Homo sapiens: one gene and its partners. The protein of the gene in region 3 purifies or fractionates together with the protein of the main gene of each other region. This does not show direct contact. Each region holds a gene or a part of one and is shown on either strand. Other genes may lie near its edges.

The links.
Region 1: the proteins of NUP43 (region 3) and NUP133 purify together in Homo sapiens (affinity purification with mass spectrometry; 7 studies listed by BioGRID and IntAct, with this or other methods). This does not show direct contact.
Region 2: the proteins of NUP43 (region 3) and NUP107 purify together in Homo sapiens (affinity purification with mass spectrometry; 10 studies listed by BioGRID and IntAct, with this or other methods). This does not show direct contact.

What each region holds. Positions count from the first base shown.
Region 1 is NC_000001.11:229,497,971-229,506,287, forward strand, and holds part of NUP133 (nuclear pore complex protein Nup133), read right to left. Parts: intron 8,189-8,317; coding exon 8,070-8,188; intron 4,133-8,069; coding exon 4,029-4,132; intron 2,894-4,028; coding exon 2,786-2,893; intron 1,849-2,785; coding exon 1,714-1,848; intron 337-1,713; coding exon 166-336; intron 1-165. UniProt on the Homo sapiens protein: Involved in poly(A)+ RNA transport. Involved in nephrogenesis.
Region 2 is NC_000012.12:68,738,032-68,746,348, reverse strand, and holds the end of NUP107 (nuclear pore complex protein Nup107), read right to left. Parts: intron 4,537-8,317; coding exon 4,369-4,536; intron 3,995-4,368; coding exon 3,887-3,994; 3' UTR 540-3,886; downstream 1-539. UniProt on the Homo sapiens protein: Plays a role in the nuclear pore complex (NPC) assembly and/or maintenance. Required for the assembly of peripheral proteins into the NPC. May anchor NUP62 to the NPC. Involved in nephrogenesis.
Region 3 is NC_000006.12:149,722,805-149,729,836, reverse strand, and holds the end of NUP43 (nucleoporin Nup43), read left to right. Parts: exon of another isoform or gene 1-318; coding exon of another isoform or gene 319-347; exon of another isoform or gene 348-1,276; coding exon of another isoform or gene 1,277-1,317; exon of another isoform or gene 1,318-1,357; intron 1,358-1,358; coding exon of another isoform or gene 1,359-1,447; exon of another isoform or gene 1,448-2,638; coding exon 2,639-2,868; 3' UTR 2,869-5,522; downstream 5,523-7,032. UniProt on the Homo sapiens protein: Component of the Nup107-160 subcomplex of the nuclear pore complex (NPC). The Nup107-160 subcomplex is required for the assembly of a functional NPC.

The DNA.
Region 1 (8,317 bases), on a different chromosome or scaffold from region 3:
TATGATCTCATTTCATCATAATAAAAATAGTTCACTAAAAAGACCAAAGGTTTTATTTCGCATAAGCTACTGTCCATATGGAGGAATACTAAATTCAGAGGATACTTTCAACTTATTGATTTAACTAAGAAATAAGCTTGTAAAATAGTTATTTTATAAACTTACTGTGAGATCACTACTAGGAGATAAAATTCCAAAAAGAGAAGAAACTTTTCGACCAATTCCTGAAAGCATGCCTTGCCCCTGAGGCAGGATATGCTGATGAATCTTTCCTGAGCTCTCAGGTATCAACCGAATTAGTTGGCTTCCTGATGAAGACAAAATAAAACTTCCTCCCTGTGAAAAAACATTATGAGGTTAGTTCAGTTTAGCATCGAATGCTAAGATAAAATGAAAAATTCTTTGATACAGAGAAAAATCATCGTAATTGAAATAAATCTAAAAGAATACAAAATAGAACGTTGTTATTTTATTAAAGTAATATATTTCAGAATCCATTCAGTTAATATTATTAATCCTACATAGAAAAACTCTCATAAGAAAAAAACTGGCCAGGCATGGTGGCTCACACCTGTAATCCAGCACTTTGGGAGCCCAAGGCGGGGTGAAACCCCGTCTCTATTAAAAATACAAAAATTAGCTGGGCGTGGCGGTGCGCACCTGTAATCCCAGCCACTTGGGAGGCAGAGGCACAAGAATTGCTTGAACCCAGGAGGCAGAGGTTGCAGTGAGCTGAGATTGCGCCACTGCAATCCAGCCTGGGTGACAGAGTAAAACTGTGTCTCGAAAAAAGAAAAAAAAAAAAAACAACTTTTGTAGCAGAAAAAAATTGCATATTTTTTAAATTCTGATTTTTAAACTACAAGTTCATCATATTTCAGATTCAACAAATTAGGTTATCAGATTTTATTTATTTATATTTTTTGTTTGCTATTTTATTTTTTTAGAGATAGGGTCTCGCTCTGTCACCCAGGCAGAAGTGCAGTGGTGAGATCATAGTTCACTGCAGCCTCAATCTCCTGGGCTCAAGAGATCCTCTTGCCTCAGCCTCCTGAGCAGCTGGGACTACAGGCACACACCACTATGCCCAGATAATTTTTAAATTTTTTTGTAGAGACAAAGTTTTGTTTTATGGCGCAGGCTAGTCTTGAACTCCTGGCCTCAGGCAATCCTTCCGCTTCAGCCATTCAAAGTGGTGAGACTGCACGCATGAGCCACCATGCTCAGCCAGATTTTGTTTCTTTGTGAACCTACAAAGAAGATAATGCAAGCCATTCTTTATAGTGTCTGACAGTTTTTAAGCCAATCTTATAAAATGTTTCTAAAAGAAATTCATATCACAAGCTACTATCTGAAATTGATATTTTGGAGTCCTGTGAGAAGAGCCTCCCTTGTCTAACTGTTCAAATCATAGATCCTTACATTCTTCTCTTCCTTGTCTCTTTTTGATCCCTCCCCGGCCTCTATAGTCTCTTTAAAACCCCACATTTTTAGTCATCAAATCTCATTTCCACGGCTGGGGTGCAGTGGCTCATGCTTGTAATCCCAGTACTTTGGGAAGCCAAAGCAGGAGTTATTGCTTGAGCCCAGGAGTTTGAGAATTGCCTGGGCAACATAAGGAGATCCCACCTCTATTTAAAAATAAAAACAAAAATTTATTTCCAAGCCAAATCACAGCTTTCCAATAAATATAAAGGAATATCCGTGGTATACCTGCACTGCTGTTAGGAAACTGTAAGTCTTATCACCTCCCGAATCTACAAAAGCCTCTGTGTAGGTATCTTCACCAGCAAGGCTTGGCCAATAGCGGATAGATCCTTCTCTGGTGGCAACCATGACAGCAACAGCCTCAAAACAAGATCACAACAATCAGCAATCACAATAAAAGAGGAACCCAAAAACCAGCAGTCTGATGGCAATGATACAAAGAAACAGGACAATTTACTATTTGATCAAGAAAAATCAGAAATAAGAACTCACCAGTGTTTTGGTTTGCATTTTTCTAATGGCTAATGATGCTGAACATCTCTTCATGTGCTTATGTGCCATCCTTATATCCTCACTAAGTGTCTGTTCAAGTCCTAGCCCCTGTTTTTAAACTGCATTGTTTTCTTATCAAGTTTAGAATTTTAAAAAATATTCTGGATACAAGTCCTTTGCTGGATACATGATTTGCAAATTCTTCTTACTCTGTAACTTGTCTCTTCATTTTCTTGTCTTTGGCAAAGCAACGCTTTAAATTTTTATTTTATTTTAATTTTATTATTAATTTTATCAAACTTTTCTTTTATGGATCATGCTTTTGGTGATTTCCAAGAACTCTGTCTAATCTCAGGTCATGATGATTTTCTTCTGTTTTCTTCTAAAAGTTTTACTGTTTTACATTTAGATCTATGACCCATTTCAAATTAATCTTTGTAACAAGGTATGAGGTTTAAGGGAAAATTCAATACAATACAATACAAATTGGTCATTTGTAATTTTAAAATTACAAATGTTCCTACACTATGCATTGATACAGAGAAAAATCATCGTCAAAAACCATCCTTTCTGAATTGCTTTTGCACCTTCATCAAAGACCAAATGGGTGCCTTTATGTGGATCTATAACTGTATTCTCTATTCTGTTACACTGACCTATGTGTGTAGCTCTCTTTGCCAATACCACAATATCTTGATTTCTATAGGTTTATAGTTATATCTCAAAATCAAAGAGGATGATTCCTCTAACTTTAGGATGTCCTTGTTGTAAAAAGTTTATTTAAATAAGCTTTTAAGTCACCTACCTGAGTAGAATGTGCTTCACCTGAGGGAGAAGAGTAAGAAAGAGCCACTAAGTCGGCACTCCAGTGGAAATCACTAGGTGGCAGCTGAAGTTCTTTGCAAACGGATAACTGTAGAACAAACCCAAACAGAAAATCTTTCACATCAAATCCAGTATTTTGAAGATGCATCTGATTTCCCTTCTCTGCATATTTTAGATTCTGACTCACTGCTGGAAACACCATTCTACAAATATTCTTTCTTCTCACATCTCCTTTTAATCAGGCTTTCAGTAATTTTAAAACAAAGTATCTTAAGAGTATTGAATCATGAAAACTTAAAGGTAGACCAAACTCTGAAGAACAACTATCCTAACCTCTTCCTGGGCTAGAAAAGTCCAGTTAAGAGAAGACTAAGTAAGGTTAAGATGAGTGCTTAGGCTTCCTATGGAACTTTCCCAATTTACTCTTGATTTGTTCATCTGACATTTAAAATTAGCATGACCAAAGAGTAATTATACCAAGTTACCTAGGAAACAATTTCTTAGACTCTCAGCCAAATATCAGGATCCCGCAGCTAACTCAGTATGTCCCCCAGGAATTCACCCTCACCTATTACTCCTAACCACATACACCCTTTTCTAGGCAGCAGTAACACAGAGTTCAGCAGAAGTGAAGAATTGAGGTAAGCAGGAGCCCTGAGTTCCAACGGAACATGGCCAAGGAAGTAATGACTGGTAGAAGAGAGTAGTGTATCTAAGCTGTAACAAACAGAAAAAGGTTGCTGAGGATACGTTACTAGACATGCAAATGATAACCCACTGTTGGAAGTGGACAAGTGAAAAGTTTAACTAGCAACTGGTATCATATTTTCTTATTTTATTAAGCATCATTCAGTAGGTTCAACAAAACATAGTTCTGTCTTCTCAGAAATACGCAAACTCAAAGTTCATTTGCTTATGTGGATAGCATTTAGTCTGATACTTCATTAGGCAGACGGATTAGCATTATATTCATTGGAAATATCAATGACTCTAATTTTATTAAATGTAAACAACACAGATCTTCAAAAGGGGGAAACTTTTTTCCCAATACACAAATGTGTATGCATGCTCATTATTTCACATCACTATGAAAATGCAAACTCTTAATGCCTAAGTAGTTTCCTATTGACTATCCTCCAACTGTAAAAAAATTAGGGTAAAAATGAAAAGTCAATTGGCATTCCTCTCCTCTATCTTGTTCCAGCTCTCTAAAGAGCCATTACCTTAGTAATAGGTGACAGAGCAATCTTCCAAATAATGAGCTTCTCTTTGCACACCAGACAAGCCCATCCACCTTCATCTATGTTAATGGTCAGCTGGTCATCGACTAAAGGAAAAAATGAGGTGGGTGATTAATCTTATAGTATAAATCTTTATTACCACACGCTTTATCAAAAAAAAGTAATTGGCACACTCAGAAACGACTACCTCACAACAAATACTTTTGAATATTCCAAAATTATCAACACCAAAAACAATAGATCTATTAACTCTGATAACCAACTTTAGAAATATATCTAACGCCTGTAATCCCAGCACTTTGGGAGGCCGAGGTGGGAGGATCACGAGGTCAGGAGATCGAGACCATCCTGGCTAACATGGTGAAACTCCAACTCTACTAAAACTACAAAAAATTAGCTGAGTGTGGTGGCACGTGCCTGTAGTCCCAGCTACTTGGGAGGCTGAGGCAAGAGAATCGCTTGAACCTGGGAGGTGGAGGTTCCAGTGAGCCGAGATCGTGCCACTGCACTCCAGCATGGGCAACAGAGCCAGACTCCATCTCAAAAAAAAAAAAAAAAAAAAAAGAAAGAAAAAAGAAATATATCTAAAGGCAAAAAGTGTATTTGGGACATTTAATATTCCTTAATTTTTTGTTACAAACAGACCAGATAGCTTATTTCCTATAAGACATATTTAGGCCAGGCACAGTGGCTCATGCTTATAAATCCCAATATTTTGGGAGGCCACCCTGGGAGGACTGCTTGAGGCCAGCCTGGGCAACATAGTGAGACTCTCTCTCTTAAAAAAAAAAAAAAAAAATAGCCAGGCTTGGCAGTGCACTTCCCAGCTACTAGGGTGACTGAGGCACAGGAGAACCACTTGAGCCCAGGAGATTGAAGCTGCAGTAAACCATGATCACATCACTCCCACCTGGTCAAGAGAGCAAGACTCCATATCAAAAAATAAGTAAGCAGAAACAACAAAAGAGAGGCCAGGCAGGGTGGCTCACGCCTGTAATCCCAGCACTTTGGGAGGCCGAGGTGGGTGGATCATGAGGTCAGGAGTTCGAGACCAGCCTGGCCAACATGATGAAACCCCATCTCTACCAAAAATAGAAAAAAAAATTAGCCAGGCATGGGGGCATGGTGGCGTGCACCTGTAATCCTAGCTACTCGGGAGGCTGAGGCAGGAGAATTACTTGAACCTGGGAGGCAGAGGTTGCATTGAGCTGAGATCGCGCCACTGCACTCCAGCCTGGGCAACAGAGCAAGACTCTGTCTCAAAACAAACAAACAAAAAAGAAATATTTAGCAACATTTATAATTATATCGATAAAGTAAAACAAATAACAAACTCATTAACTATATAAAACATTTCAAGGAAAACAATGTGCTTTTGGAGGACCAAAAGCACATAATTTTCAAATAAGAGCTCCTTAAAGGAATGATAAATTATTTAGTACATGGAGACAAAGAGTTACGTTCTCTATTAAGTGACAAAACTAAATTAGCACATATCTTAAGTATTGGTGGTAAACCTCCACAAATGTGTTAACAGCCCTGGAAATTTTATTAAGTTGAGCTTTGCTCTTTACTTACAGAAAGGTAGAAGGGTGAAGTAAAAGGCATAGACAATGTACAAGCAAAAATATCAAACCAAGCCCAGGCTGAGTGAGGCTTTTTGCTCAACTGAACTATCTGCTCAGTAATTTTCTTTTTCTTGAAAGCACTACAACTCCAGATCCTCGACCGGTGTGCCTTTAAGGGCTGACTTAACAGTAGTTGGCAGGTTTCTAAGTGGGGAAGAGTTCTTCAAGTTGACACACCTCTTTGTTTTATATATCCTAATTTCTAAGGACTCTCTGAATTTCTAGATTTGGGGCTGTGTTATTTAATCTAGTCTGTTAAAATATGAGTAGTACATTAAAAGGTTTAAATGTAAACTGAAATTTTTAGAGGGGAAAAATATACACATATATACCAATATATATATATACATTTATTTATTTAAAACAGAACAATGTATAGAAAGGTTAGTAGTTGTCTGAAAACAACTATCCCTAAAGCTCCCAAGGACCTACAGGCAAGATGTGCCAAGTTCCAGTTGATGAGATATATTCCTTCTTCTAAAACAGAGTAATTTCAGCATTTTTTTTTTACTGTTATTAAGTTATACAGTAAATAGAGTTATTCACAGTATAATACATTTTACATCACGATACACCCATATACAATTTAAGTAAAACGAACAAAATTTACTAAACATATGAGATGCATTCTATTTCTTCTTTTTTTAAATGCTGGTCAAGAACCGCTAAATTTTGGTCACCCCTACAATTTGAAAAATACTGTTCCAGAAAAATCACAAAGATCTAGAATTCAAGCCTTAATAAAAATGACTTCAGCAGATATTAAGGCTGCTCTGAACTTTGCTCTTCCAGTGTCATCCAACTGCTCATCTTTAAAGTTGCCTTTCTAAGCTTGTGTTGATTGTATCTGTCAAAATTCCACACTAATTCTCCACCAACAGACGCTTCTAAAGGTACACCACGACAATGGTAACGTCATAAATTTGTGCACACAGCCTCTGGGATGCTACATAGGATCCAGAAATGGAGGTAGGACTTGATTTTACTGTATTATTAAACCCAATAACATGAGGTGCCAGTTTTGGGGTTTCACGGGAAACTTCATAAACCTGATCAACTCTGTAAACAGGACTGAATTTTGCATATACAGTATTTCCCCCTTTTATCTGCAGTTTCAAATACCTGTGGTCAATCGTAGTCTGAAAATATTAAATGGAAAATTCAAATGAACAATTCCTAAGTTGTAAATTGCATGCTGTTCTGGGTAAAGTGATAAAATCTCATACTGTCCTGCCTAAAGGTTGTGAATCAACCCTTTGTGCAGCATATCCATACTGTATACCCCAAGCTTGTCCAACCCATGGCCCAGGGACACGTGTGGCCCAGGACAGCTTTGAATGCGGTCCAACACAAGTTTGTAAACTTTCTTAAAACATGATAAGATTTATACACAGACCTTTTCATTATTTATTTTTAGCTCATCAGCTATCGTAAGTGTATTTTATGTGTGACCCAAGACAATTCTTCTTCCAAGTGGCCCAGGGAAGCCAAAAGATTGGACACCCCTGAGACTATCCAGCTGTTTGTCACTTAGTAGCTGTCTCAGTTACCAGATGAACTGTCGCAGTAATGCAATGCTTATATTCTCATTTTAGTTAATGACCCCAAACGAAGTACAAGAGTAGTGCTGCTGGTATATTGTTATAATTGTTCTACTTTATTATTACTGTTGTTCATCTTTACTGTTCCTAATTTATAAACTAAAGTTTATCATAGGTGTGTATGTATTAAAAAAACACAGTATATATAAGGTTTAGTACTATACAAGGTTTCAGGCATCCACTGGGGATCCTGGAAGATATCCCCCAAAGATAATGGGGGACTACTGTACAGTACCTAAAACCATTAAAGACTTAATTTGATTGTGTTCAAATGAACTCATTCTCCTTCTCGAATGTATTATACATCTCAATTACAGTTAAAAAAAAAAAAAAAAAAAAAAAAAAAAACTAAGACAGGTGGCCAGATGTGGTGGCTCACGCCTGTAATCCCAGCACTTTGGGAGGCCAAGGAGGGCAGATCACCTGAGGTCAGGAGTTCAAGACCAGCCTGGCCAACATGGTGAAACCCTGTCTCTACTAAAAATACAAAAAATTAGCTGGGCGTGGTGGCTCACACCTATAATCCCAGCTACTTGGGAGGCTGAGGCAGGAAACTCGCTTGAACCTGGGAGGTGGTGGTTGCAGTGAGCTGAGATCACACCACTGCACTCCAGCCTGGGTGACAGAGTGAGACTCTGTCTCGAAAAAATAAAAATAAAAAAACACTAGACAGGCCACCCATCTCTCACCATTTACGTAAAGGTATACTAGAGAAAACATAAATTTAATCTCTATGCCACATCTAGGCTCCATTTTAAACTGCTAATATAGGTAAATGGAAAGATGACACCTACCTTCAGCCAATGTTAGGGCTTCCATGACTTTAACAGGAAGAGAAGATCCAAACGTTTTCACATCATAGTTCACAGACTCAGTTATGGAGTGGTGTGGGAACATTCGTGTTGGTGTTCCCCTAAAGAAAAGAGTCTATATTACCTTACTTGTAACTTAAAATTCTCCATTATCCTAATTTTTTATGTATATATTTTCACAGTAAGGAGTTCTTTGAAAAAAATTAACACTGGCTCATATTTACCATGTA
Region 2 (8,317 bases), on a different chromosome or scaffold from region 3:
TCGGAAGGGGCGCCGGGCCTGTCTCCGGCTGCCCTTCTACTCCACCGCCGCGTCCTCGCAGACGCCGACCTCACCGTCTGACCCAGGAGTGGCATGCACAGATCAACCCCGGGCGAGTAGCACTCTTAACAGAGGACACACACCCCGCCGCCGCCCTGTAAGCCAGCTAGGACGCCGCAGCACGTCCCACGCCCCGCTCATCTCCGCCCGCAGCCACGTGACTCGGGGCTCCAGTGCTTCCGCCCCCGAGCCGCTGGCTGAACGGCCGCTACCCTGCGCAGGCGCGCTGAGCCTTGGGCGCGCGACGCTTGCGTCTTTGGGTCCTATCCTCTGGGTCCCCGACCCCCTTGGTCACCTAACGCCTACCTGACTGGACCAATCTAGGACCCCTTTCTTGATGTTTGTTTCCTGTGTGTCATTGACCCGATTTGCTAGACAACTTCTCTCTGGCTGTGCAGACACTGTTAGCCAATTTTACGTATTAAATGCTGAGCAAATTTAGTAGCCCTCGCCAGAGGGGGGAAAGAACTTATTGAAAGCATGTTTTTATTTTTTATTTTTGGAAAAAGACATTCAAAATTTACTTTCCAACAGACAGCATCATCGGGTATAACTACAAGGGTTTCTCCTTAGATCATACATTCACAAAGCATTATTAGCTCAACAGTGAGAAAATGTGTTCTCTAAAGATGTCCCCTTGACAATGTAAACGAGTGCTACTGTGTTCACTTACAACTCGAGAAAAAAACGTACAACCTGGCAAAACCGTATATATATACAGCTGTCTCTAGGGGTGCATACAAATATATATATATGTTTTGGATCAGGTCAGGTGCAATGACTAAGAGATAGAACTTTGAGTAACAGTCTTGATCGACAGTAAGGTCCTTCACACAGAAGTCAGGTTCTTCCTTTCTCCTTCCTCCTTAAGTCGATAAAGAAAGATTATATATTGTAGATATTACAGGTACAAAAGGAGATTTTTAAAAAAGGAATCACAAAAACATCTTGAATGTCCAGCTGTTCCTGCCAATACATCAATTCTTAGTTTTAAGACAGAGTCTAGGATTAATTCAGCAGTCATAAAATTAAAAAGAGAGACTGTGGTACAAAAAATTTAAAATAAATGAGGAAGTAGGGCATGGTGGCGTGGGCCTGTAGTCCCAGCTATTTGAGAGACTGACGTGGGAGGATTGCTTGAGCCCAGGAGTTGGAAGCCGGGATGGGCAACATAGTGAGACCCCCATCTCTAAATTAAATAAATAAATGAGGTAGGGAAATTAAAACTTTCACACCCAGGACATGCCTGTTCCAACTTTGTAGCCTTCATGCAATGCTCAAGGAAAAAGTCTTCATAATTCCTTGGCATAAGTCACACCAAGAAAAGTTTTTAAAACTTAGTATGCGAACCTGTGATAGGCAACACGCCCTTCCCTGAGTTTCCTCTCTAGAATGAAAACCCAGTTCTTCAAGAGTAGGCACTGAGGAACTAAATTAAGTTGCCTGAAATTTCCCACTCAGGTGCCCACCACTTCTGGTGTTCAGGAAGAGAGGCATTTGGGAATTGTGAGGAGCACATTGGCACTCTTGGGGCTCCAACTGAACTGTATTTAAATAAGCAGCAACACACACATTGACTCCCTAAGGACTCAAAGGAGTCCAATTGGCTGGGTGCAGTGGCTTATGCCTGTAATCCCAGCACTTTGAGAGATCGAGGCGAGTGGATCACTTGAGGTCAAGAGTTTGAGACCAGCCTGGCCAACATGGCAAAACCCCGTCTCTACTAAAAATACAAAAATTAGCCAGGCGTGGTGGCAGGCGCCTGTAATCCCAGCTACTAGGGAGGCTGAGGCAGGAGAATCGCTTGAACCCAGGAGGCGGAGGTTTGCAGTGAGATATCATGCCACTGCACTCCGGCCTGGGAGACAGAGCAAGACCATGTCTCAAAAATAAATAAATAAATAAAAATTAAAAACAAGTCCATTTGAGGGCATCCTAATTAAGAGTCTAAGGTTGAAGGAATTTTGTAATTCCACAACCTTAGTGGGTTTCTGTGCTGTGTTTTTTAAAGGACATTCAAAAAACAAGGCACAACAAAAGACAAATACAGAGTGGGGGACATGCAAAACAAGTTCCTAAATAGATGACAGACCTTGTCCATTTACCCACATACGGTTACGATGGAAGCATACAATATTCCTCCTCCTCATTTAGGCTAAGTAGTTTTCCCACTGTTGTTCAACAAATAGGTAACAGTCTTTGGAAATAGTCACCCTGGGTTGTACAAAGTTTCTATATATACAGTTTGTTGCAAGTAACAAAACTACTTTTAAGACTCACTTATTTCCCCTCCCCACCCCAAATCTAGTCTGTATTTGTTTTGGTATGAATTTTTTGTTTTTATTTTTTGCAAAGTAGCATAGCAATAATCATGATTACAGGACTGCATGAGCTGTAAAAATCATTTGCATATTAGTAAGAATAAAGAAAACAGGAAGACAAGATGAATTCTTTAGAGAAATAAAACAAAAAAAGCACATAATATAGAACTGATCAAATTCTATGATCCCATCTCAGGCTTCCCAAGCCAGCTGTCTCTAGGGGTGGCATCTATAAATACATATTCAAGAAATTCCTTAGATGATTAGCAAGTTTGGGGAATTACTGTTTTCTATTAGAATCACATTCTTTTAGTTGTCTCCTGTTTATAAGCCCTACACTCTAGCCTATTTGGTGTATTTGTTGGTTCATAATAATGCCCAGCATTTATCATTTCTTGCTCATACTGATTTCTTAATCTATAGAGCCTCATCCTTCTTGTGTCACTCTTTGCCTTTGCAAATTCAGTGCATTACTCAAACCCCAAACCAATACTACTTCCTGAGAGTCTTTTCAGCTGGAGAGAGGTTCTTCCTGCTCAGACTACTTGTAATTCTTTCTTTTTTTGGAGACAGTGTCTCGCTCTGTCCCCAAGGCTGGAGTGCAGTGGCGTGATCTCGGCTCACTGCAACCTCTGCCTTCCAGGTTCAAGAGATTCTCATGCCTCAGCCTCCCCTGAGTAGCTGGGATTACAGGCACCTGCCACCATGCCCGGCTAATTTTTGTATTTTTTTAGTAGAGACAGGGTTTCACCATGTTGGCCAGGCTGGTCTCAAACTCCTGACGACAGGTGATCCACCTGCCTCGGCCTCCCGAAGTGCTGGGGTTACAGACGTGAGCCACTGCACCCAGCCACTACTTGTATTTTTAAATGACACCTTTTAAATGTACTTATGGTATTTCCCCTATTAGAAGAGCGGGATCTGTAATCTCCAATATATTCAGTGCTTACTGTGTGCCAGGTACTACGCTAAGTCTTTATATGCTCTTATTTTGATAGGAAGTTTGCTAAATGAAAGTTAAACTAGAAATGTCTTCAAAATAACTAAAATAATAATAGCATGTTATGTTAGAAAAATTCTTGTTATAGTCATCTTCTTAATTTTAATATTCAAAAATACTAAATTTTATGATAAATAAAAAATTACGTACCTGGCTTAAAAATAAATCTACTTTCCATCATCTTTATGATTTTAAAATATCAGAATGCTTATGATTACAGAAAAAACTAGAACAGAAAATTTAATTTTCTTATTACATGAAAAAGAGACAACCCTGGAATTTGTAAAAACAGAAAATTTTAATTTTTATATAGTTTTATTAACAAGCACACAGAGAAACGCTGATATCCCTACATGTTGAAAGTGTCACGATAATATTCTGAAAAGTACAAAATTCAAATGTCTAAATTTTACATGGTAATGCAAAAGAAAAAATTACTAATAACAAGTATATTTTATTAAAAACTTCATTTATCATGAAAATTAGTGAGATTACAAAGATTAAACTATAACTGAATTTCATACCCTAATGGGTCAAGTCCCTGGTCTAGGAGCATTAGAGAGGACTCTCTGAGCTTCTGCAGCAACTTCCTTAGCTCTTCCTTAGAAAATACCTGATTTTTAAAAAGAGAAATAAGAATGAGAACAAAGACAAGTAGACAAGTATGAACTTAGTTACCTAATCGATCTGATTAGCTTCATATAAGAAGAAATGCCTCTTTAAGATTTATGTAGCCAGAGCCTAGTAAATTAGAGTGGTTCAGGAATTTCAAGGTGAATTCTCAGAGTCAGTCTATATATTTCTAACTGCTTACAAATATACACACATTTTGGGAAAAAAGTACAAACATTAAAACATTAAAACTGGACTATTACTTTAAGAAAATCCAAGAGCAATTACAAATGTAAACACATCTTCACAAAATTAATATTACTACAGAGCATATCAAATCATTAAAATTTAAAACTACAAGGCTCTAGAACTTACCAGGTACAGTTTGTGGCGCTCAGAGGATACCATATCTGCTAACTGTAGGCATTCCTGATACTGACCAGTACTGTGCAATATCGTATGAAGCAGAAAACACAACATTGGCAGACAAAGCTTTCTCAGTAAGACCATTTGATGTGTTCTTTCATGGTCTTCTTTGGCATCCTACAAACAGACATCAATAAATCATTTTAACAATTTAAGCTAAAGATCCTTACAAAAAGAAAAGCCAGGTACTGAATCAAACCCAGAATGTAATTGGTAGACAAGATTTAACAGCAAAAAAGTATGAAGATGAACAACGTAGACTACAGAGAGGTATGACAGTGAAAATAAAATGCTTCTGCATTTGTATTTCTAATAAACTTACTATGTCCTGAATAAAAACATGCATAAAAAGAATGAGTTGGAAACTGAATATCATTAGAGCAAAAATCAGAACAGAAAACAATCACCACTCCTTTGGATGTTTATACATATAAATAAAGATAGCTCTAAGGAGGCCTGAGAGGACACAACAGACTGACAGCAATGACTGTTGCTGGGAAAAAGACGATGTGGGGAGGGGCACACAGGGAGGGTCAACTTCATTGCAGACTACTTTGCTTATACACATGGAAAATGGAATTTATAATTTCTTTATATAATTTTTAAAAACAGAAAAACAGAACCTATAGATTTGAATAATACAATTAATGAGTCAGAACAGATATATAAGGAAAACAAGCAGAAAAAACAATTGGCATTCCTTTATACATACATGGATCTTTCTTAAAATCGATGTGAACAGTAAAAGTACAGAAAAAAGAGTAAACCTCTTATGCCCACTACATTTACTTACAAAAAATTTGAAAATTAAAATAATTAGAAAGTAACCAACCACATAATTTCTTTTTTTTTTCTTTTCTTTTTTAACCTTTTTCTTCTTTTCTGAGACAGCATCTCACTCTGTCGCCCAGTCTGGAATGCAGTGGTACAATCATGGCTCTCTGAAGCCTTGATCTCCGGGCTCAAGCAATCCTCCTACCTCAGCCTCCCAAGTAGCTAAGAACCACAGGCATGTGCCACCATGCCCGGCTAATTTTTCTATTTAAAAAAAAAAATAATTTTATTATTTGTAGAGATGAGGTCTCCCTATGTTGCCCAAGCTAGTATCGAACTCTTGGGCTCAAGTGATCCTCCTGCCTCAGCCTCCCAAAGTGCTGGGATTACAGAAATTACACACTACAATTTCTGAAATAATCTTAAAAATAGGAAGGAAATCAATAGCACTAATAGTGTAGAAAAAAAAAACAGGACAAGCTAAAATAATAACTGCTCCTTTGAAAAGCCTAATGGAATACCTAAAAGTATCTTCATGTGAGAGGCTATATTAAATTGCTAAAACATTTTTCAAATGGACATGTAAGTGGAGGGGTTAATCAACAACAAAGTATAATCTGGTAATTATACCAAGGAGTAATTGTACTAATTTGGGCTAATCTAGGTCAGGTTTCCAAACATAGGAAAAATTACTATCAATATTTTGGTCTTGTTTGAAGCATAAATACATAAAAGCAAATATTAAAGTGCTTCTTTACAAGGGAAGCACCTTTATTTCTTTTCTCAAATAGATACTTGCTACCTTCAGAGGTGGATTTAAAATGCTTCAAGGTTTTACTTGTAATTCATATTAGTGATCCCAACCTAGAACCCAGTAAGAATAAGAGAACTGCTTCTTTCTGGACCTTTCCATTTGTGCTCCAATGTAGTCTTTCTGTCTATGTTAAAGAGGCCGGGTGCCCCTGGCTTCTGACTCCTTGTTGCCCGAAAAGCAGCAGGTTACTTTCTTATCTCACAGGATGGACCCAGACTTGCTTTTACTAAATCCTTTTGCTGCCATAATATCAGAGTGTGCTGCAGACAATCTCTTCTGCTAATTATAATGAATTCCGATACTAGCGGGCGGGCTGCCAGCAACTATCCAGGGTAATGGCTGACAGACCCAGCAAATTGCTACAAGGAAAAGCAAATAAACAGCTCTGCTACAACTGAAGACATTTTTCTCATCTGAATGAACAAAAGCTTTGAAATAGCCGGTAAATATGTAAAACAGACGGATTATTTCCACTAGGGATATTTCCACTTTTTTTTTTTTTTTTGAGACGGAGTCTCGCTCTGTCGCCCAGGCTGGAGTGCAGTGGCGCGATCTCAGCTCACTGCAAGCTCCGCCTGCCGGGTTCACGCGATTCTCCTGCCTCAGCCTCCCGAGTAGCTGGGACTACAGGTGCCCGCCACCACACCCGGCTAATTTTTTGTATTTTTAGTAGAGATGGGGTTTTACTGTGTTAGCCAGGATGGTCTCGATCTCCTGACCTCGTGATCTGCCCACCTCAGCCTCCCAAAGTGCTGGGATTACAGGCGTGAGCCACCGCGCCCCCCCATGTAGTGCCTTACATGTGAGAAAAACTCATTACCTAATATGTGTTGATAGCAAGAGTTGATTGGAACTGATATTACAGCTATTCCTAATCTGAAGACAGTACATTCACCTCAGTAATGCAGTATCATTCATTTACTAAGTACCACTGAAAGCCTCCCATGTGCTCAGCATTATTTTAAGTGCCAGAGTCAAAGAAATAAAGAAAACAAGGTTACTCCCTTCATGAAGGTTATATTCTAATGAGGGTAGACATACAAAAAGCAAATAAATTAATATGTTTTATATCAGATTGTGCTAAGTGCTATGAAGAAAACTAATGTAGGATATGGAGATTAAAAGGGACAGGTGTGTGTGTGTGTATACACATGCATACATGCTATTTTAAATAGGGTGGTTGGGTTGGGGAGAGGTTCTTGAAAGAGATGACATTTGAGCAGCTGCTGAAAGAAGTACAAAGTCATCCATGCACCTATCTTGGCGAAGGAGCATTCTAGGCAGAGGGGAACCAATGAAGAGGCCCAGAATGCCAGGATATAGTGATGGGAGAGCAGTAGGACACAAGATTAGGGGGTTAGTTTAAAAAAAAAAGAACAAAACAAAAGTATGTATACTCTTGTACATCAAGAAAAGAAAGATTTTATTCCAAGTGCAATAAGAAGGCATCAGAAAGTTCTGGGTAAGACAGTCGCATGTATTTTATTCTGAAAGGGTCACTAGTCCATCTGTATAAGGAACGATTGTATAAAGAACAGTGAGAAGCCACGGAAGACAGTAGAGGCTTGGACTAGAATGTGCTAGAGGTAGAGGTAGTGAAAGGTAGGTAAAGATGACCTGCCTGCTCCATTCTCTCTGCCATTCCTCTGTGCCACCAGCCCCAACACTAAGGGGACTATTCCAGTTATTTAAAAACTTGAGGGGTAGCTATACGAAAACAGCACATAATGCTAGGGCTATTGTGTACAGCCGTGCCTTGTACAAGGGTGGCTGGCCAAGCAAGTAAGTGGGGCTGAAATCTAGCCTGTGTTCTGTCTTACATATTGTGTGCACTTGCCATGGAACCTATCTATGTAAGGGAAGGGAATTCCAATTTTTTTTTTTTTTTTTTGAGACGGAGTCTCCCTTTGTTGCCCAGGCTGGAGTGCAGTGGCGCAATCTTGGCTCACTGAAACCTCCGCCTCCCTGGGTTCAATCGATTCTCCTGCCTCCACCTCCCTAGTAGCTGGGATTACAGGCGCGAGCCACCACACCCGGCTAATTTTTTGTATTTTTATTTTTATTTTTGAGACAGAGTCTCGCTCTGTTGCCAGGCTGGAGTGCAGTGGCGCAATCTCGGCTCACTGCAACCTCCGCCTCCCAGGTTCAAGTGATTCTTCTGCCTCAGCCTCCCAAGTAGCTGGGACTACAGGCACGTGCCACCATGCCTGGCTAGTTTTCTGTATTTTTAGTAGAGACAGGGTTTCACCATATTGGCCAGGATGATCTTGATCTCCTGATCTTCTGATCCACCAGCCTTGGCCTCCCAAA
Region 3 (7,032 bases):
ACCATGTGGTAGGCATTCTTCTAGGTGTTAGGACGTGTAACAGTGAGCAGAACGAAATGTCGAAACGCATAGAGCAAATATTCTAATAGTTAAAAAAATAGATAATGTATCAGTAAGAGTCCAATTAGAATGTCAGAAACTACCTTAGATGTAGAAGGAATTGGTCTCACATGTGTTAGAAGGGCTGGGAAAACAAAAGGTAATAGGAGGGGTGCTGGGAGAACAAATAGGAAGAAAAGGGAAAACCCAGAAATAGTAATTGTTAGTACCCCTGCTACTTGACTGTTGAAAATGCTGTAAAAGTTTGTTCTGAATTAGGAGAAAAGGCGCTCCCTCAACCAGGCTGAAACTACCACCAGTGTTGTTGCCAGAAACCTGGAGCAGGAAGGAGCTGCTTCTCCCTTCCGCCTTCCAGTCACCCACCATTAATACCTGCTATTGGCAAGGCCCATCTGGATGGCAGATGGCAAAGCAGCCTGGAAAGTGGAGTTTACCAACTTCTACCTCCTACAGTATATAGTGGAGCACAGCAAAGTGGAAAAGGAGGCCGGGCGCGGTGGCTCACACCTGTAATCCCAGCAATTTGGGAGGCCGAGGTGGGCAGATGACCTGAGGCCAGGAGTTCAAGACCAGCCTGGTCCAACATGGTGAAACCCTGTGTCTACTAAAAATACAAAAATTAGCTGAACGTGGTGGTGGGTGCCTGTAATCCCAGCTACTCTGGAGGCTGAGGCAGGAGAATTGCTTGAACCCGGGAGTTGGAGGTTGCAGTGAGCCAAGGTCACGCCACTGCACTCCAGCCTGGGCAACAGAGCAAGACTCCATCTCAAAAAAAAAGAAAAAGGAAAATAACATGGCCAAATACACTGCTAATTACCATGAAGAAGAATACAGCAGAGTAGGAGGATAAAGAATAAAGACAGGGGTGAGGGGAGCTACTCTAGTGAGAGTCAGAAGAGGCCACTTGGCAGAAGGAACATTTGAGCAGAGACTTAAGAGAAGTGAAGGCATAAGTGACATGAAAGCATTCCAGGCAGAGGAAACAGCAAATGCTGAGGGCCTGAGACAGGCAGAGAACTGCAAGGACACCACGGTTGGAGCTCAGGCAGCAGGGTACAGTGGTGGGAGATAAGGACTGGTGGCTGAGGAGCCCTGGGACTTTGTAGCCCATGATAAGGACTTTAGACTTATGGGAGGGGGAGGAGAAAAGTGGAAAACAGGGAGATGAGGAAGGAGTCTTATCACAGTGGCTTGAATAATGTGTTAATCTTTACAGCGTCCAAGAGCAATGTAAAATGTAGGGGCAGTAAAAGATAAACAGAAAAACTAAGGGGAAAAAAATTCTAAAACTTCTTCAGAAAAATTCTGGAGCGGAGAGCATGTGTGGAGCATGCATGCATGTCCATGCTATAACTTCATCTACAGAGAAACAAACAGTTTCATCTAAGGATTAACTAAGTATGTACTTCGTTTTTACTTCCTTCCTCCCCTAACCGCACAGTCTTGAACTTGCAAGTTTACTTTTAAGGAACCTTGGTTAGACTGGAAATAAAACTTTATTCTGTGTCTACTATTGCAAGGCACAGTATTAGACACTGTGAAAAAGTAAAACATATAAAATATGCATCCTGCTCTTAAGACATATTTAGTCATGGACAGAGGCATGGATAGTTCAATTAGGATATAAGAATTGTTATAAAGTAGTAAATTAATGGTACATACAAGTGCTGAGGGTTCAAGGAAAGAGAAAAACATGAAGTAGAGGTTGTCTTCAAAGTTTTCTTAGAGAAGGAAGTTCAGCCATATTTTAAAGGATCAGCAAGATTTTAAATGTACTAATCTTTAAGCTTCAAGACATAGGGACTTGGCACAGAGCACTTAGCACAGAGCCTGGCACATAGTAGGTACTCAGTCATTTGTTGAGTGAATTAAATTTGTACTTATTTGATATGACAGCAAGTTGAGAGGAAAGTAAGTTGCGAATAATGACTAAAATTGAAATATACTGCCTCTGCCTCACTTTATTCTATAGTAAGTACAGTGCGCTGTTAGAGATAAAACCTTATAATCTAGTAGTGTTCTAATCTGCTTGTAAGAACATTTATCTAAAAAGCATAAGAATGAAAGATTTGAGGTAAGGCGATTATATTTTAAGAAATATAGTAACAAATATATATTTAGAAATATATTTCTAGAAATGTTCATCTAGAAATATGTCTAGAAATTCTTTCTCATGATCATTTTATTTTGTTATTACCCAAGAGTTTATATTTCCATGTATTACCTACATTTTTGGTTTCTTTTTTTTCTTTCCTTATTCAACTTGTATGCTGGCCGTTTTGCTACCTTTCTGAGACTTTCCATTAAAAGATGAACAGAAAGTCAGTTGAAATCACCTGCTTTTCCTGAAGACTTCGAGTTTGGTATCCATATTATCCCATGGAAATTTGAATATTTAATATCACTGAATAAGCCTTTGGTCCAAAGTGGTGATGTATAATAATGGAATTATTAGCCTATTATTCTGAGAATTAAACACATTGATATCATCACCTTTCTAAATATCAGTAGAAGTTTGAATGTTTACTAATATAAAAATCATCTTGAAAGATTTCTTCCTTTTCTTTTTTTCTCCCAGGAGGAAGAAGCAGTACTTTTTTGTCTCATAGCATTAGTAACCAAGCTAATGTTCACCAGTCTGTCATTAGCTCCTGGCTCAGCACTGATCCTGCAAAAGACCGAATTGAAATCACAAGCTTACTTCCCAGTAGGTCTCTGTCTGTGAACACTTTGGATGTTTTAGGTCCTTGTCTTGTTTGTGGAACCGATGCAGAAGCAATTTATGTTACTAGACATCTTTTTTCGTAGAAGTACTATAATTATAAGATTTCAGATAGAACATGCAATTAGCCTTTTGAAATCCAACTTCTGTGCAAAATTTTAGTATCAGAAAATACGAGATTTGCAGGGGAAACATCAGTAAACTACCATTAATGTCAATGCCCAGTTTTGACTTTTGTTAGCCTGACACTCCCAAACAGTTGTAGAATCCGATAGATGACTGATGGCAAAAGATTGTGAACATGTGGAAGAAAATCAGTGGGATTCTGGTGCTGATGAATAGGTTGCCTTCAGAGTATTATTGACAGACAGCTTGTGGAACTAATTCTTTATTTTTGATGTTGTGGGAATTAACACATCAATGGTGGTTATGGGAACTACCAATGGGTTCCTACAATTTTTATCAGTAGTATGTGGCATATACACCTTCCTAGTGGCAGTTGCCAATGTTAATGATTATTCTTTTTATTGCAAGTATTTCCTATGATCCTTCCACACTTTATTTCCTTAATAATAATAAACTTTTTCAGAAAGAATTGAGTAGAGCAAAAATGACAAAGATGTGTAGCTGTGTTCAATTTTTTTTTTTTTTTTTTTTTGAGGCAGAGTCTTGCTCTGCTGGAGTGCGGTGGTGCAATCTCGGCTCACTGCAACCTCCACCTCCCAGGTTCAAGCAATTCTCCTGCCTCAGTCTCCTGAGTAGCTGGAACTACAGGTGTGCGCCACCACGCCCAGCTAATTTTTGTAATTTTAGTAGAGACAGAGTTTCACCATGTTGGCCAGGATGGTCTCGATCTCTTGACCTCATGATCCACCCGCCTCGACCTCCCAAAGTGCTGTGATTACAGGTGTGAGCCACTGCACCCGGCCTGAAATTTTTTTAAGGTGAAAATGTTTTGACAAGTTCCTTTTTCAGAATAGGTTTTTGAGCAGAACTCTTTCAGCTTGTTAGACCCAACTTTGCTTTTGTTTAGCTTCACAGCATAGCTGAAAGTTGCCAAACTGGACATTGTGCAATAAAGTAGAATTCTATATTGATAAGCAAACTATTTCCAAACTAAAAATGTGATAGATAAAAGTGTGATTAATCAAATGATATGATCAGAGTAAAGAATTTTGCCATTTTGATCCTTTTACTTTGTTTTAGCCACCTATAGTGTTACCAACCATCTTTATCCTTGTCTGCAGGGATAATAATGAACTAATGTAGTGTTTTAAGATAATTTAATGATACTATCTTTCCAAACTTTGTTAGATTTTAAATGTATTATTGACCTGAGACCTTAATGACAAATCACTGCTATTAGACAATTGAAGTGTTCATTTACTTTGTAATTCCAATAATCATAGTTATGGAATTATGGTAAGGTTTTGCTTTTCTGTCCTAATAAATATATATATTTTTTGAGATGGAGTTTTGCTCTTGTTGCTGAGGCTGGAGTGAAATGGCATGATCTCAGCTCACTGCAACCTCCGTCTCTTAGGTTCAAGCAATTCTCCTGCCTCAGCCTCCCGAGTAGCTGGGATTACAGGTGCTCACCACCACACCCAGCTAATTTTTGTATTTTTAGTAGAGATGGGGTTTCACTGTGTTGGCCAGGCTGGTCTTGAACTGACCTCATGATCCACCTGCCTCAGCCTCCCAAAATGCTGGGATTACAGGCTTGAGCCACTGCTCCCGGCTGATTTTTGTATTAGTAGAGACGACAGGGTTTCACCATGTTGGCCAGGGCTGGTCTCGAACTCCTGACCACAGGTAATCAGCCCGCCTCGGCCTCCCAAAGTGCTGGGATTACAGGCGTGAGCCACTTAGTATTTGTAACCATAAGAGAAAGTATATTTTAACAGCATTACATTTCATGCCAATTGACAAGTTTTGCCAATTTTAATAAGAAACTAAGCTTTATGTAATGTAACACCGTAATTTATGAATTTGTTCATTGTCACTGCCTTTATTCATGAAACTGTCAAATAGAGTGTCTTTCAAGGGTTGCAGGATCTTAGAGATAGAAAGTACCTTGGTGATCATCTCCAGCCTAAATTTCATCATCCCTTCTATGGTATTCCCAACAAATTATCATCCAACCTATACTTAAAAACATATGGTGGCCAGGCATGGTGGCTCACGCCTGTAATGCTAGCACTTTGGGAGGCCGAGGTGGGTGAAGCACCTGAGGTCAAGAGTTCGAGATCAGCCTGGCCAACATGGCGAAACCCCGTCTCCACTAAAAATGCAAAAAAAAAATTAACCGGGCGTGGTGGCAGGCATCTATAATCCCAGCTACTTGGGAGGCTGAGGCAGGAGAATTGCTCAAACCCGGGAGGCAGAGGTTGCAGTGACCCAAGATCGTGCCACTTCACTCCAGCCTGGGCAAAAGAGCAAAACGCCATCTCAAAAAATATACATATATAAGGAGATAAAGTTTCCCATTTTCCAATACAGTTTCACATTTGAACAGCCCTAATTGATACAACTTTATGGCAGGGTTTTAGTGTGTGAGTGGGATCCAAAACACTCAATCCTGTAAAAGGGTACAGTCCTATTGTATGTTAACACACTGATGATGTGAGCCTGTGAGATGAGCCAATCACCAGTTGTTATGTTCGAATCTGCTTTGTGTTGGGACGCTTTAATGTCAGGGTTTCACTAAATAAATGAATTTTCATATACTGAACTGAAATTTGCTTCTATCTGTCTTATCTCGGGAGCCACACACACAAAATTCCTCTCATCACATATTCAAATATTCAAAATTGATTATTATAGTCTCTCCAGTGAAGGTTTCCTTCTCTTTCTTTCCATTTTTGGCTAAATCCTTCTTATCCTTCAAGACTCCTTCTAGGTGTCATTTTCTCCAGACAGCTTTTATTGGCCTCCAGCAATCCGGACTAAATTGCACTCTGCTTCAAAAGCCCATTGTGCAGAACTTAAATTGTGCGCAAAGCAGTGTGTTAAGGAGCCTGTCTCCCCCTACTGGGCCACAAGATCAAGAACAGCGCCCATGTCTTCGTGTAACAGTGTTTAACAGTATCTGAACCATAGTAAGCAATGAGTCACTGTTAATTGACCTTGTTTTCACAATCTTGTTTTCCCTTTAAAAATTACTGCTCTTTGTCAAAGGCCTTTTTTTTTTTTTTTGAGACTTTAAGTCTCGCTCTGTCGCCCAGGCAGGAGTGCAATGGCACGATCTCAGCTCACTGCAACCTCTGCCTCCCAGGTTCAAGCAATTCTCCTGTTTCAGCCTCCCGAGTAGCAGGGATTACAGGTGTGCGCCCAGCTAATTTTTTGTATTTTTAGTAGAGACAGGGTTTCACCATGTTGGCCAGGCTGGTCTTGAACTCCTGACCTCAAGTGATCCACCCTCCTCCACCTCCGAAAGTGCTGGGATTATAGGCATGAGCCACCGTGCTCGGCCAGAGGCCTTCTTTTAAGTGTGACTTCCAAGATAAACACTTTTTCATATATTGTCTACCTTGGTGATTATGACAGAAATCTTGCCATCCTGTTAATAGGAATGATATTCCTTTGTAATGCTGTGTCAGCTTTCTGAAGTGTTCACATGTGATACTCCTAAGCCACACTTCCTATATTCGGAAGTTAATACAAATGGTTTTTAATCCTTAATATGGGCCTTTCTTGTTCTAAGAAAAATTTCATTTCAATATAGGAAAGGACTAACTATTTTCTTTGAATCTTTTGTAGAAGCTATTATTTTCTCCATAATTAGCCCAGCGTGCTCTCTCCACTTTCATCCCATTGATTAAGAAAGATGTTTGAGACAGGATTTCACTCTGTCACCCAGGCTGGAGTGCAGTGGTGTGATCCCCAGCTCACTACAGCCTCGATATCCTGGGCCCAAGTGATCCTTCCACCTCGGTCTCCCAAGTATCTGGGACTGCAGGCATGTACCACCAAGCCTGACTAATTTTTGCAATTTTTATTGAGATGGTGTTTCACTATATTGCCCAGGCTGGTCTTGAACTCCTGGGCTCAAGCAATCTACTTGCCTTGGCCTCCCGAAGTGCTAGGATTACAGGCAAGAGCCACCATGCCCAGCCAGAAAGATGTTAAATGAAATGAAGTTTTTAGGCCCACTGCTGGAGTCTTCTCAATTATCAATGAAACATGAATCTCTGGTATTTGGCTACAGTTACTGAAATATTTATAAAACAACCTAATTTATTGACATT